Linked DNA regions of Homo sapiens. The protein of the gene in region 1 purifies or fractionates together with the protein of each later gene. This does not show direct contact. Each region holds a gene or a part of one and is shown on either strand. Other genes may lie near its edges.

The links. The genes of interacting proteins can lie anywhere in the genome.
Region 2: the proteins of SPAG6 (region 1) and TVP23C purify together in Homo sapiens (affinity purification with mass spectrometry, with the first as the bait; one large-scale study listed by BioGRID). This does not show direct contact.
Region 3: the proteins of SPAG6 (region 1) and SLC20A2 purify together in Homo sapiens (affinity purification with mass spectrometry; one large-scale study listed by BioGRID and IntAct). This does not show direct contact.
Region 4: the proteins of SPAG6 (region 1) and HACD2 purify together in Homo sapiens (affinity purification with mass spectrometry; one large-scale study listed by BioGRID and IntAct). This does not show direct contact.

Annotation. Positions count from the first base shown.
Region 1 is NC_000010.11:22,344,221-22,348,295, reverse strand, and holds the start of SPAG6 (sperm-associated antigen 6), read right to left. Parts: upstream 2,801-4,075; 5' UTR 2,685-2,800; coding exon 2,660-2,684; exon of another isoform or gene 2,574-2,659; coding exon 2,478-2,573; intron 280-2,477; exon of another isoform or gene 163-279; intron 1-162. UniProt on the Homo sapiens protein: Important for structural integrity of the central apparatus in the sperm tail and for flagellar motility.
Region 2 is NC_000017.11:15,560,684-15,564,672, reverse strand, and holds the start of TVP23C (Golgi apparatus membrane protein TVP23 homolog C), read left to right. Parts: upstream 1-1,189; 5' UTR 1,190-1,224; coding exon 1,225-1,236; intron 1,237-3,989. Other genes in the region: TVP23C-CDRT4 (uncharacterized protein LOC100533496), read left to right, coding at 1,225-1,236.
Region 3 is NC_000008.11:42,438,732-42,442,231, forward strand, and holds part of SLC20A2 (sodium-dependent phosphate transporter 2), read right to left. Parts: intron 923-3,500; coding exon 719-922; intron 1-718. UniProt on the Homo sapiens protein: Sodium-phosphate symporter which preferentially transports the monovalent form of phosphate with a stoichiometry of two sodium ions per phosphate ion.
Region 4 is NC_000003.12:123,582,254-123,586,310, forward strand, and holds the start of HACD2 (very-long-chain (3R)-3-hydroxyacyl-CoA dehydratase 2), read right to left. Parts: upstream 2,801-4,057; 5' UTR 2,775-2,800; coding exon 2,620-2,774; intron 2,365-2,619; exon of another isoform or gene 2,149-2,364; intron 77-2,148; coding exon 1-76. UniProt on the Homo sapiens protein: Catalyzes the third of the very long-chain fatty acids (VLCFA) elongation four-step cycle (condensation, reduction, dehydration, and reduction).

The DNA.
Region 1 (4,075 bases):
ACTGACTATTAAGAAAGAAAACTGGCCGGGCGCAATCCCAGTGCTTTGGGAGGCCAAGGCGGGTGGATCACAAGGTCAAGTGATCGAGACCATCCTGGCCAACATGCTGGAACCCCGTCTCTACTAAAAGTACAAAAATTAGCTGGGCATGGTGGCGCACACCTGTAGTCTCAGCTACTCAGGAGGCTGAGGCAGGAGAATCGCTTGAACCTGGGAGGCGGAGGTTGTAGTGAGCCGAGATCATGCCACTGCACTCTAGCCTGGCAACAGAGCAAGACTCTGTCTCAAAGAAAGAAAGAAAAGTTTTCATAACAAAGTTTACAGGTTCTTTTTTAATCAAAAGAATAAATACATTGAATATTCATTATGTCTGTATTTAAAATTGCTAAAGGAATGCTTGAATTGAATCTCGATAACATGAAATTTGTTAAAAATAAGTCCCTCAGGAAAAGAAACATTTTAGCATGCTACCCAGATATTAGTCAAGTGCAGAGAATTTCAAAACATAAAGTTATATTCCTTTCGTATTCATCTTTCCTAAGCCAGACCATAAGTGTAGAATCTTATATCTAAGCCACTTATACAGTCAATTTGGATTAAGTTCCATTGTGAAGTCTACATTGCACTCTTATGGGAGGAGCTAACCTGCCACTACTCACTAAAACATGATACTCCGTATCTTAAAAGTTATGTATACTTTAACATCTCAGTATTAAAATTTGAAAATAATATCAATTATTTTCCCATTTTAAAAGTTTTAGTTTGGCTATATTCATATTGTCCAGAAACTAAATCTTTGTTAAGTAGTAAATGTCCATTCACAAAGGTCATTGAGAGGGACTGAGAGAAAAAACTTTAAAAGTTTACACTTTAAAATTACTTTTAAATACACTTCTAAAATGTAACATGTTCTAATACCTTAGTCTGTGTTAGTCTGTGTATATGAAATACTGTGTGCCCAGTATTGTTCTGGGTACTTGGAGGAGTACGGGTGCATACACACACACAGAATACAGAAAATCAACCCATATAAAACAACTATAGAACAAAGGATTATCAATTCTGAAATGACAAAATTTTAGAAATGGAGAAGAGATTAGTGGTTGTCCAGGGTTAGGGATAGCAGGAGGTGTGTGTGGCTATAAAAGGGCAAGAGAGAGGATCCTTGTGACAATGAAAGTGTTCTGTATCTTGACTGTGCTGGTGGTGGATACGCACGGAATAAAATTCTATAGGACAAAACACACACACACACGAACAATTAAAAGGAGGAAACCTATATAAGATCAACGAATTTTTATCAATGTCAATGTCCTCCTTGTGATATTGCACTACAGTTTTGAAAAATGTTACCATTGGGGAAACTGAGAAAAGGGTACACGGGATCTCTCTGTATTATCCCTTACAGTTGTGAATCTACAATTATTTCAAACTAAAATGCGTTTAGAAGATTATAAAATATACTTTATTGTAAATACATGCCCCCCAATAAAAACACACAAGGAATAAATGCCAAAAATCCTAGTGACAAAACGAAGTATCACATAGGTGCAGTAGTAATTCCCCTCAAAGAAACCCAGAGTAATCATTACACTTAAGTATTCTTGCTGTCAACATGTTAATTGTTTAAATTATGTGTTAGTTTTAAAGATCACATCCTATAAACTGAAGATTTCTCATGACACAGTAGTGATAAAATGCTACCTTACAGTTCAGATGGTGGTAGAATCATCCAAAAAAAAAGAAGAAGAAAGAAGAAAGAAGAAAAGAAGAAGAAGAAGAGGAAGAAGAAGAAGAAAGAAGAAGAAGAAGAAGAAGAAGAAGAAGAAGAAGAAGAAGAAGAAGAAGAAGAAGAAGAAGAAGAACCATTTTCTCTTATCAGTTTATGTTATGAGATAAGAAGATCTCTCTCCCTCCCTCTCCCCCTCTCTCCCCCTCTCACATCTGCAAGAGTCCGGACTGAGGAGTAGAAGGAACGCGCCATAAGGATTTCGCAAAGTCTGGTCTCTACCTACTTGGAATTTCTTGGAAAAGATTCAAGCATATCATTCCCCTTTCACTAAAGCAAGACGAGAAATCACGTCTAAACCACTGGAATTGCTTTGCTGTGAGGAAGTCGAAGGTGATCAAAGGCAGGGTGGCATGCAAAATGGCACTTGGATAAAATGGGTCTCATTAGGGTAGAGTCCCATTCACGTAAAATGACTCCAGGCAATTCCTAGGGCCTCGACTTTCAACCTGACACTTGCCTGTGTGCAATGAAGATGGAAACAGGGACAACGCGCACCTCCCACAACCATCTGGAAGCTTCACCCTCTCGGCCTGACCCCCAAAGACCCGCTGAAAAGAATGGATGCTTTTGCGAACTCCGGTCCCCACACTGCGGCTCCCCAAGAGCTCCACGGGCAGGGCAGCGGGGCGGAGGCGTCGGGGACTCAGTGCGCGGGGGGCGACGGGGGTTCGGGCTCCGGGCTCACCCGCGTTCTGCAGCGTCTCGATGTTTTGGGGTCTAGTCGCCAGCTCCGCCACCATCTGCACGAACTGGGTCCTGGCCTTCTGGTATTGCTCGAACACTGCGGGAGAGAGAGTCGGTGGAGCCCACCGCACCCGGGTCTCCTCGGCGCCAGCTAGTTAGGGCACCTGCCCGCCTCGGCCCTACCTTGCAGCACCTGCCTCTGACTCATGGCGCCCCCGCCGCCGTCTGCCCTCCTCGAGCTCTGCGGGGAAGCCGCTCGGCCTGCGAGTCCACCAAGGGGGCGATCGTGGCGACGACTCGGCCTCCGACGGGAGCCGCTTCTCTGTGTACCCGCGTCTCCCGGGCAACCTACCGGAACCGGAACGCGGCCGTCTTGCTGCAACGGCCAGTCCCGGGCGTGACGTCACGGCCGCGGTGCCTGGGCGCACTGAGCGGGGCGGCGGCGCGAAGACGCCCGAGCTCGAGGACTCGGACTGCTGGGGCTCTCAGCGCGCCAGGCTCGCGGAGCCGCCGGGACATCGCGCGCCGTCGAGTATCCCTGCACTGCCCGGAGGTCGGAGCTCCTTACAAAGCGACCCCAGATTGCCGTGGTATCCTGACTGCGGCGCGGGTCGGGACCAAGCGCCGGGAGAGCCCCACGCGCCAAGGGAGCCTGGTTCGAGGGCAGCCAGACGAGTAAATTGCAGCCCTGGAGTTGTCTGAGCTTCGACGGTCCCGAGAAATCTCACACGTCACATTGTACAATCCGATCAACACATGAATGTCAATGCAACTTAAGTGTTGCATTGACATTTAACACTGCACTGACAGTAAAACACTGATTTAGGAATCCGTGTTTTCTTTTGTAACCCGCTGTTATATACCTGGCATTCCTGGTTTCAAGATTCCTGGAGGAGCATGACAACCATGTTCACACACTTAATTACACTGTATTGAAAGCATTTAATGAGCACTCAGAGACTCAGTGAGGAAAGCAGATGAGGAAAGGATGTGATGAATGTCCTGTCTTCCCTGGCTTTCTCCTAATGACTACTAATTTTGCTGTTTCCTCACTTTTATGTGATTTGTAAATATTTTGTCTTAGTCTTTTAAATTTAGGCTTCGTTATGTTGATGAATGACATCTCCAACAGAAAAAGAGAGAGAACCTTTACCTGGAAAACCAGACTTCCCTATCTTATATAACTTGAACCCTTTACCCAGTTTCTTTTAACAAAATTGAAGTACTTAGTCTATTACTGGTTTCTAGCTTGTCTTTGAAAACTATATACCAGTTGTTTCAATGACAGTTGTCAACTTTAAATGTTCCTCCATCAAAAACTACAATTTCACCAGATGTCAAGTGGATACATAGCCGCAGCTGCTGCTAAGTAGTGCCAAGACAGGAAACCCCTTGATATTTCTTCAACAGAAGGGAGCATGCAAACTTAACTGGTTCTATATTTGGAATGAGTCCTCTATATTTATCTTTGAGATCTCACCCTTCACTGAGCTCTTGATGAAGTCCTGATACTTTGTGGAGCTCCAAATAGTTGGGGAATGGTCCAGCAATCAGAGAGAAGAATAAGTGTGTTTAGTCGGGTCCCTAATACCCCCGAAG
Region 2 (3,989 bases), on another chromosome or scaffold:
CGAAAAACAACACAAAACTCCACAGCACTGAGTGGACCACTGAAAACCTGCCATGGGCAGGCTGGACGTACAGGCCCCAAATTTGTTAGCTTTTCATCTCCAAGGGCACGAATGCAATTGTGCTGCCGAAATGTCTCGCCTTTGAGAAACGCGTGTGTGTGTTTTTCCCCTTTCATTATTAGAATATTAGGTTTTAAATGGCACTGGCAAACAGCCACATAAAATTTGTGATTTTAATAGAATCCCTTCAATTAAGGAAACGTGCAAATACCACTATGCCAACAGCAGTCTGACTCGGCCAGACAGATAGGATATTGTCATCATCACCGCTTCAAAGATGACTTAACGCCCCTTAATTTCACATCCTTTGTTCAGGCAAGATCACAGCATGAGCGGCTGGACTTAAAACTGTAATAAGTATAACGTCTCCCATTTACTAGATACTTACACTGTAAGGAAACCATTATCACCCCCACTTTACAACTGACGAAAGAAGTACATAAAGGTTGGTGATATGATTGGCAATAGAGTTCCCAGGCGCCTAAGCTCCAGGGCGCAAGGTCTCAACTCCTGGAGTCTAAGTTTATACCTCCCATAATAATACCGTCCATTAGTTACTCTAGAGTCCTCCTGCCTTGTTTTTCTTAACGTTTTACTTCTCTGCAAGAACATATTTTAAAAAGTTGCTTCTACAATTTAAAGTACAAAAGTAATACTGTACAGGAGTAAGTCTTTGTAAAATATTTAAAGAAAATTATATTATACAATAAAACCCCGCCCCCCTGCATTCGGGGCAGCGACGCTGGGGGAACGACTTTAGAATTTGCATTGGGTGGACAGCAAATACTTCCGTAAAACAGACCATGAAGCTTTCCACTTGGAGCCCACTGTGGCCCCAATGCCTTTCCCTTTCGCTCCTGCTCCAGGCTCCGCCTCCGCCGTGTCCGGGCTGCTCGCCCCGCCCCCGCTCGCCCCGCCCCCGCTCGCCCCGCCCCCGCTCGCCCCGCCCCCGCTCGCCCCGCCCCCGCTCGCCCCGCCCCCGCTCGCCCCGCCCCCGCTCGCCCCGCCCCTGGATTTGCTCCCTCAAAGCGGAGGTGAGGCCGGACTGAGGCTCTTACAGTGGTCCCTGCTGGCCCTTGGTGACGGGTCGCGTCAGTTCCGACCCGGACCCGTACGCTGCTGCGCTGACGTGGCTCCTGGAAGCAGGGCTGGCGTAGGGCCGCCATGTTGCAGCAGGTGAGGGGCTGAGGGCGCGCTGGGAGGGTGGCGGCTCCTGGGACTGGCTCTGCAGGTTCCGTGGGACTGGAGCCCGCGTCCCCCGCGCCCGCTACTCGAACTCGAGGAGGAGCGGGGCGGCCGGGAGTGGAGGGCTGTGGGTAGTTGTCTGAGGAGGGCTGCTGGGGGTTCTGAGGCCGCTGGGGGAGGCGTGACCCGTGCGGCGCAGAGCAAGTACTTCTTGCGGCTGTGGGGACGCCCATTGTTAACCAGCGCGAGTGGGGGTCTCTCTTTCCTCAACCCTTATTGCCGGGGTGGAGTTGAGGAGGAGCGGCCTGCGGGCCTCTTAGCTTCCTGACACCCAGGGGTGCGATGCTATCTTGTAGGAATCGGCGACACCGCCAGAGCCTCGCTTTCAAATTGCTGTTTCCAAACTAATGTTGTTGGTGATTCTCTCCTTTGTGCTCTTAGAGTTAATTGTAGTCCACATGTTGGCAACCAGAGACTCGTAAGATTAATAATATTTTTAGAAAAAACTACTGTTTATGGTCACTTAGATTGTCTTAAGTGTTTTTTTCTTTCGGTTCACACAAAATTTGTTGAGGGATTACTATGACTCAGACACGGTTGTAGGCCCAGGGATAGGGTTGTGACCAGTACAGACAGGTTTCTTGCCCCGTATTTTCGGGTTAGGGAAGTGGGTTCTAGGAGATGGGGGTTGGGTGGGGAGACACGATAAATTGTATAACCAAAGATATTTTCAGATAATTGCAAAGGCAGGGTGATGAAATAACAAGTGTCCGAGGATAGGACAACTAAGATTTATGGTCAGGAAAGACTGCTTATGAGGAGATGCCTTGAGTGGAGAAAATCTAATAATGGTTAAATTCAGCTGTATTACAGGAAAGGTGTCCCGATCCAGACCCGAAAAGAGGGTCCTTGGCCGGGCGTGGTGACTCAGGCCTGTAATCCCAGCACTTTGGGAGGACGAGGTGGGTGGATCATGAGGTCAAGAGATCGAGACCATCCTGGCCAACTTGGTGAAACCCTGTCTCTACTAAAAATACAAAAATTAGTTGGGCGTGATGATGCACGCCTGTAGTCCCAGCTACTCGGGAGGCTGAGGCAGGAGAATCGCTTGAACTGGGGAGGCCGAGGTTGCAGTGAGCCGCGGGCCACTGCACTCCATCCAGCCTGGCTACAGAGGGAGACTCCGTCTCAAACAAAACAAAAAAAGTCTTGGATCAGGCAAGAAGGAATTCAGGGTGAGTCCACAGTGCAAAGTGAAAGCAAGTTTATTAAGAAAGTAAAGGAATGGCTACTCCATAGAGCAGCCTGGAGGGCTGCTGGTGGCCCATTTTTATGGGTATTTCTTAGTGATATGGTTAATAAGGGGTGGATTATTCATTCCTCCCCTTTTAGATCATAGAGAGTAACTTCCTGATGTTGCCATGGCATTTGTAAACTGGCATGGCGCTGTTGGGAGTCTAGTAGTGAGGACGACCAGTGGTCACTCTCGTGGCCATCTTGGTCTTGGTGGGTTTTGGTTGGCTCCTTTATTGCAACCTGTTTTTTCAGCAAGGTCTTTATGACCTGTATTTTGTGCCGACCTCACATCTCATCCTGTGATTTAGAATGCCCTGTCTGGGAATGCAGCCCAGTAGGTTTCAGCCTCATTTTACCCAGCTCCTATTGAAGATGGAGTTGTTCAGGTTCACATGCTTCTGACATTTGAACCTGCGCCCAGGCCGGATGAGGCTGGAGAAACACAACCATGTTGACTGTTCCCACTATTTATTTATTTATTTATTTATTTATTTATTTATTCATTCATTCATTCATTCATTCATTCATTTATGAGACGGAGTTTCACTCTTGTTGCCCAGGCTGGAGTACAATGGTGTGATCTCGGCTCACTGCAACCTCCGTCTCCCGGCTTCAAGCGATTCTTCTGCCTCACCCTCCAGAGTAGCTGGGATTACAGGCGCCCGCCACCATGCCCGGCTAATTTTTGTATTTTTAGTAGAGATGGGGTTTCACCATATTAACCAGGCTGGTCTTGAGCTCCTGACCTCAGGTTATCCACCCGCCTCGGCCTTCCAAAGTGCTAGGATTACAGGCGTGAGCCGCCAGGCCCGGCCGACTGTTCCCACTTGATAAGTTTGTGATGTGAACCTCAGTCGAGCCCTTAGTGCTGCCAGGCGGTCATTCTACATTTCCATAGCCCCTTCACCCTCTCGCCTTAGGCAACTATTAAAACTCAAATCTTCAACGTTTCTTCTCTTATCCTCTCTCAGCTGGTAACGTTGCTTCTTGTTTCACTGAAAATGGAAGCCGTCGGAAGACAATTTTCACACTAGCTGCCTATTTATTTGCATGTTTACTCAGGGTCTCATATTCTTTTATGATAATTGGACTGTCAGTGCTCCATTCTTAGGTCTTCCTGTCTACTGTGTCCTGGTTTCCATCTCCTCTTGCCTACTGGAAGGCATTGTTCTAGTAATTCTCTTTCTTGCATCATCAGTTTTTTAATCCTTTTAAACGTTTGCTCACATCAACATATAAACGTGTTTTAATTTCTCTTACCTTAAAAAATGAAAACTTGGCCGGGTGCGGTGGCTCACACCTGTAATCCCAGCACTTTGGGAGGCCGAGGCGGGTGGATCACGAGGTCAGGAGATCGAGACCATCCTGGCTAACACGGTGAAACCCCGTCTGTACTGAAAAACAACAAATTAGCCAGGGGTGGTGGTGGGCAGCTGTAGTCCCAGCTA
Region 3 (3,500 bases), on another chromosome or scaffold:
TTTGAGATGGAATCTCACTCTGTTGCCCAGGCTGGAGTGCAATGGCGCAATCTCGGCTCACTGCAATCTCTGCCTCCCAGGTTCAAGTGATTCTCCTGCCTCAGCCTCCCGAGTAGCAGGGATTACAGGCACCCACCACCATACCCAGCTAATTTTTGTATTTTTAGTAGAGATGGGGTTTCACCATGTTGGTCAGGCTGGTCTTGAATTCCTGACCTCAGGTGATCCATCCACCTCGGCCTCCCAAAGTGCTGGGATTATAGGCATGAGCCACTGCACCTGGTCAGTCTGGACATTTTCTAAGGTTTCTGTGATTCAATGGTGGGACCACCTCCTTGGTTACAAATTTAGCTTTCTCTTTGCATCTTCCATAGTAAGCTGGGTTAACCAACGTTCAGCAATTCGATAACTCCTGGGGCATGGAGATCTGCATATGTAGCTGAGTGGGTGCAGCACAGACATACAGTGCGTGGCCCCAGTGCCTCCGGTTAGACTATAAACAGCTCTTGGAAGAAATCACAGGACAAGAGTGAGCCTGCTCTGCTGACTACGAAATGGTTTCCTGAGGCCTCCCTAGCTTCTGGGTTTTCTCAAATTATAAAACTGGGGGATCCTTTTGTGCATTAAAACCAGATTGCCCACACCCAGGCCCAGCTGGTCCTCCCCAGGGAACTTCTCTGTGCTGCCACAGAACCCAAGCTCTCCAGGCACATCTTACCGTATGCAGCCCGAGGGTGGCTGCCCGCAGAAGTGCCTTCCGAGGTCCCCAGTGTCTCCCCTGCTGCTCCCGTGAGCGGGATGGTGCTGTCATCATTAGCCTTGGCACCTGGTAGCTCTTTAAATACTGGGGACTCTGCTTCCTGAACCTTACTGAGGCTTTCGTCAGATACTCGTGATAAAGCACCTTCTTTTTGTAATTTGCCTAAAGAAAACAAAGTCATACTGAACATTCTGGAAGAGAGTTCTTATTATTGAAACATGAATATTAAAAAGTGAATCTATATCTTTATGCTTTAGCACTGATTTTGGAAACAAAAAAAAAAGTTATAGCTAGATAGAGAAAATGAAGTTGAGGCCAGGTGTGGTGGCTCACACCTGTAATCCCAGCACTTTGGGAGGCCGAAGCAGGTGGATCACCAGGTCAGGAGTTTGAGACCAGCCTGGATAATATGGTGAAACCCCGTCTCTACTAAAAATATAAAAATTAGCCGGGTGTGGTGGCAGGCGCCTGTAATTCCAACTACTTGGGAGGCTGAGGCAGGAGAATCTCTTAAACCCAGGAGGCAGAATTAGCAGTGAGCCAAGACTGCGCCACTGCGCTCCAGCCTGGGTGACAGAGTGAGACTCTGTCTCAAAAAAAAAAAAAGAAAGAAAAGAAAAGAAAGTCAAAAGTTCAATTAATTACCTGGAAAACTCTAGCCAGAAAATTCAGCAATTGAGGAAAAGATGGAAATTTAGGGCCCGAGTTATCATATCCAAAAACAACAACCAAAAAAGGGTCAGATCCGAATACCACAGTTCCCTCCAGCACTAATGTTCTGTAAATCTATAGCCACCCAGACTGGCCTTCTGTTTTCTTAAACTAACCTCAGAATCAGAAATTTCAATTTCTGAAAAATTGCCTTTTTCAGAAAGTCACATAAATAAAATAATAAAATATGCGATTTTTGAGACTGGCTTTTTCTACTCAGCATAATGCCTTTGAAATCCATCCACGTTGTTACATGGATCAATAATTTGTTCCTTTTAATTGCTGAGTAGTATTCAAATGTACAAAGGCACCACAGTTTATTTATTCTGTGGATAATGTGGGTTTTTGGAGATTGCATATAAAGGTGCTATAAACATTCATGTGCAGATTTCTGTGTGAATTTAAGTTTTCATTTTTCCAGGGAAATATCTAGGAGTGGTTAAGAGTATATTTATGGCAAGTGCTAGCCATATAAGAAGCTGCCAAACAGTTTCCCTGTACCATTTGACATTCCCATCAGCAACGTACGAGGTTCCAGTTCCTCTTCATTCTTCTAAATACTGACAAAATTTAGTACTGTCAGTATTTTTCATTATTTATTTATTTATTTATTTTTGAGATGGAATCTCACTCTGTCACTCAGGCTGGAGTGCAGTGGCTCTATCTCAGCTCACTGTAACCTCCGCCTCACGCGTTCAAGCGATTCTCCTGCCTCAGCCTCCCGAGTAGCTGGGACTACAGGTGCGTGCCACCACGCCCAGCTAATTTTTGTATTTTTAGCTGAGACGGGGTTTCACCATGTTGGCCAGGATGGTCTCGATTTCTTGACCTCGTGAACTGCTCGCCTCAGCCTCCCAAAGTGTTGGGATTACAGGCGTGAGCCACCGTGTCTGGCCCCATCTATCTTCTTTGGTGAAGTGTCTATTCAAATATTTTGCTCTTTTTTTTTTTTTTTTTTTGAGATAGAGTTTCACTCTTTTTGCCCAGGCTAGAGTGCGCTGGAGTGCACTAGCGTGATCTCCGCTCACTGTAACTTCCGCCTCCCGGGTTCAAGTGATTCCCCTGCCTCAGCCTCCTGAGTAGCTGGGATTAGAGGCACCCACCACCATACCTGACTAATTTTGTATATTTAGTAGAGATGGGGTTTCACCATGTTGGCCAAGCTTGTCTCGAAATCCTGACCTCATGATCCGCCCACCTCGGCCTCCCAAAGTGCTGGGATTACAGGCATGAGTCACCGTGCCTGGGCTATTTTGTTCTTTTTGTTTGTTTGTTTGTTTGTTTTGAGACAGAGTCTTACTCTGTTACCAGACTGGAGTGCTGTGGCGCGATCTCGGATCACTGCAACCTCTGACTCCATGGTTCAAGCGATTCTCCTGCCTCAGCCTCCTGAGTAGCTGGGATTACAAGCATGTGCCACCACGCCCAGCTAATTTTTGTATTTTTAGTAGAGATGGGGTTTCACCATGTTGGCCAAGATGGTCTCAATCTCCTGACCTTGTGATCCACCCACCTCAGCCTCCCAAACTGCTGGGATTATAGTCGTGTGCCACTGCGCCTGGCCTATTTTGCTCATTTTTTAATTGAGTTATTTGTTTTCTAAAATGTGTTTTTATTTTTTGAATACAAGTCCTTTGTAGTTATGGGATGTGCAAACATTTTTTCCCATTCTGTTCCCGGTGCTTCTCACAGAGCAATAGTTTGAAATTTTGATGAAGTACAATTTATCAAGTTGTCCTTTTTTTTTTTGAGATGGAGTTTTGCTCTTGTTGCCCAAGGGGAGTGCAATGGCACAATCTCGGCTCAATGCAACCTCTGCCTCCCAGGTTCAAGCAATTCTCCTGCCTCAGCCTCCCAAGTAGCTGGGATTACAGGCATGAGCCACCACACTTGGCTAATTTTGTATTTTTAATAGAAACAGGGTTTCTCCATGTTGGCCAGGCTGATCTCGAACTCCCGACCTCAGGTGATCTGCCTGCCTCAGCCTCCTAAAGTTCTGGGATTACAGGCGTGAGCCACCATGCCTGGC
Region 4 (4,057 bases), on another chromosome or scaffold:
AATTGAATAATAAAGGCTATGGTAGCTACCCTTAGCCAGGTATGCTCGGACCAGACCAACCGCTATAACCAGCCACCTAGTAAAAGAGAAAACAGCAATCAGGAAAAAATAAAAATAAAAAAAGTAGCATTTAGGTTAACACACAGCTGTGGCAATAAAAGATATTGCTAAAGGTGACCTCAAGCATGAGTAACCTGGATTTATGGACGATAGCTCTCAAATGCCAAGCTGTAATGCACTGAAATGTTGCAACACCGACAGCACCTTACCAAGAGGGCTCAGTGAAAGCATAGTGGCACCTCACCCATCTGGAGCTCATTTTTTTGGCAACTTTGCTATTGAGATCAAGGCCAAAAGGAAAGGAATAAGCTAAAATGGTCCTTGTGCCACTAAATCAGGTGCCAAGAAAATCTAAGACGAGAAAAAAACAGTTAAAGGAAAATTTTAAACAGCCTGTGCAGTTAAAGGGTTTTTAATAATTACAGGGTGGAAAGAAGATGCTTTAAACTATTGTTATAATTGTCTCACTGGAACAATTACCCATACCTTAAAATCTATCCTTTTAAAATTACGAATAAAGGGCTCTTGCTAAAAAAAAAAAGTTTTTTAGCCAAATTTCCTAAAATCAATGCAGAAATGAAAGCCAGATCAATACAAACCACGAAACAGGAAAGCACTTAAGCATACAGCTGTGAATGTTATATTTTTGTTCCACTGTCCTTCTCAAAAATAAACACAATGTTTTGTTAAGTTCCATAATAAAACAAATGGACCTTTTTATTAAGGTATGTCTCCTGGAAGGATTTAGATAAATGTATAGTATCAACTAGGCAATGGGGTGTGTGTGGTCTATGCTATTTCCAAAAACTATCACATAAGGACATCAAGTAAGAGTTTGTAAAAGAAGAAATTATTTAATGGTGTAACTGGTACAACCATTAACAGCCTTAAAAAAAAAGCTTACTTTGCTCTCACAATCCCAATTTATCTTCCTGGTTTAAGATACCACTCCTTACCCTCCACCCCATTCTCTATGTTCATTGCTCAGGAATAGACTTCTTTCTTCTTACCAATGTACCTCAAAATCCCTCTCCAGTCCAATGCCCTCACCGGCTCTTGCTAAGACAACAAGAATTTTATATATAAATATTAATACACACAGTGAGATTCCTGGATGTTTTTTTAAAAATCAATCTATGTGACCACTGATGTGATATAAAGCTTGTATCTGTACTAGTTCTTCATTGACCTGTGAGTCAAGAGAAATGATTTCTAGATCTGGAACTTCTACTAACAAGTTCTATGATCTCATGCAAGTCACAACTTCTCTGAGCCTAGGTTCCAACACCTACCATTTCTAATACTAGCAATACATATATGATCCTCCCACGATATATTTTCTTCTTCGTGAAAAAAAAGCAAGGTGCTGAACTGTAAAAATATTAATATATTGGCATTTGTCTTATTTTAAAAAGGGATAGGGGGATGTATAAACATATTTGCTTGCATCAGCATCTTAAGGATACACAAAATTAACTGCCTCGAGGGAGGGGAGCTGGGTAGAAGGGAAAGGTGGGAGGAAAGATTTTCACTGTATTCCCTCATGTTTTTCATTTTTAACCCTAACAATGTATCACCTACTTTAAATAAAAATGGATGTTCACTATACAATTCTTTCAACTCTTCTGTATGTTTGAAATTTTTCATAATAAAATGTTAGGACTTCTTAAAAAATTACAAATGAAGATAACTTAAAAATATATAACTGTCTGATGCTGTGATCCTCCTCACCAAAATGACAAGATAAAGAATTGCAGAGCTGAAGGAACCTTCATCACCCAGACCAACCCTTTAGTTTTACAAATGAAAAAACGGAGGCTAGAGAAATAAGATGATTTATCCAAAGTCACACAGCTAGTTAGTGGCAGAGCTTGAACTAAAAACCCGCCGGGATAAGGGATGCACTGAAATGAAAGAGACAGAAGATGGGTAAAACCGTTTCGAGGGTCCATTCTCCCCCTTTCCAGTAACTCTGCCTTCTACTCCCCAGTTTCTTCCCCACCCCAACCCATCCTAAAAGTCTAAACTCATCTAAAGCCTAGCTCTGCTCATGTCGCTGGCCAAAAACTTTGAACGCTTTCCCAATACCTTTCAGATTAAAGCGCAGCCCAGATTTTGAAAACAGCCGCCCAAATGAATGGTCACTCTGCAGCCACAGCTCCTCCACTCCCCATGCTGGCGCCGTTCAACATCCGAATCTGGCCGCCCAGGACGGGCTCCGCGCCGCAGGTAGTCCGGCCGCTGCCCCCGGCCCCGCACCTGTGGCCAGCCCCACCTTTCCTCCCGCGGCCCTCGCGAGCCAGCGCCCGGCAGCCGTCCCCGCGCCCCAGTGCCTGGGAACTTGGCTCGACCCCCAGCGCAGGAGGGAGCTCGCGGGCAGCCACCGGGGCCGATTCAGCGCTCGGCCGCCCTCAGCGCCCAGGTACCGGGTCCCGGGCACCCCCCGCCGGGAATGCACTGCCTGCGGCGGGCCGCGCCGATCCTATCCGCCCCGCCGCTGGCCGCAGGGCTCCCTCCCCGGCCGCGCTGGCTCCCCGCCTCCCCGAGCCCCAGCCTCACCCGGCTGTCATCACCACATTGTAGATGACCAGGTACGCCGTGGCCAGGGGCCCCGGGCCCTTCTTCTTCCGCGTGCCGCTGGCGTCCCCGGCCCCGGCCCTGCCACCGCCGCCCCCATTCCCCTTCGCTGCTGCAGTCGCCGCCACTGCCGCCATGTCAAGTGCCCGAAGCCCGCTCTCCTAGCGCGAGCGGCTCGGGCCGGACTACGCGAGGAGAGGGGGCGGAGGAAGGGACGAGGGGCAGGCGGGGCCAGGGCCGCGGGGCGGAGCCGGGACAGGGTCCACGGCAGCCGCCATCTTGGCTGAGGGCAAAGACGCTCCTGGCGCTCCCGTCTTTCGGCTTGCCTCAGTTGCCACTGCCATCTTGGATCAGGGTAATTCCCGCCTCTTGGGCGCTCCCGGTTACAACCTCGGCGCCATCTTGGATTAGTTCAATGTAGCCACCCTCTCCAGGCCCGCTGCTTCTGCCAGCTGGATGTTGCGTCGTCCCTCGCTATTCGCCCTCCTATAATCACTGCTTCCATGTTGAATCAAAACAATTATGCTTTCGTTCTCCCTTCTTCAATTGCCCTATCTTCACACCTGAACACTATTGCTCCGGTATCCTGCCATTTTGGATCAGGGCGGTTGACGGTGGATTCACTTCCCATCAGCCCTTGAGGCTGCAGGGACCAGCCCTTTGGTAGGTGCGCTTTGCTTCCTAACCCGTTGCCGGGTTGGAGATTCCACCTCCGAAGTTTTCTTTCTGACTTTTGATTTTACATTCCTAGTACAGTGGAGAAGCCCAGGCGGCCTAGAATCCAGTGTCGTCCGTGAGTGCTTGGCTGGTGTTCAAGTGCATCTTCCAGCCTGAGACCGCGTGGACTCGCTCATCGTGAGGGCGAGAGGAGGATAAGCCCATTGGGCTGTCGGCTGAGAGTGAGGTGCGGGGTAAGGGAGTAGATTTATAGCTATAGTGACTAAAAATAAAAGGATGTTGGCTTAGGTGGAAAACCTCTCTGCTTTGGGAAGCTGGAGCAGCTTGTGGGCATTGCTTCAACCAGCTGATCCCACTTTCCATTCATTGCTTTGTTTCAGGAGGTTCTTTATTTGTAAACGTCCCCTGCAATTTTTTACACACCCAAGCAGCTCCTTAAATGTATTACTGTATATGTGGTAGTATAAAATATTTATGGGTTCATTCCAGCAAGTGTTTATGGAGCGTCCACAAAGTTGCCCTGGAGTTCATGGCACTAAGTGAAAGAGACAAAGTCGTCAGTCTCCCAGGGATTATATAGAGCAGCGGCCCCCAACCTTTTGGTCAACAGGGACCGGTTTCGTGGTGGGGGGGTGGATGATGGTTTCAGGATGATTCAAAGGCATTACATTTATCATTAGATTCTCATAAGGAGCACACAACTTAGATCCCTCCAATGCGCAGTTCACAATAGGTTCCCCGC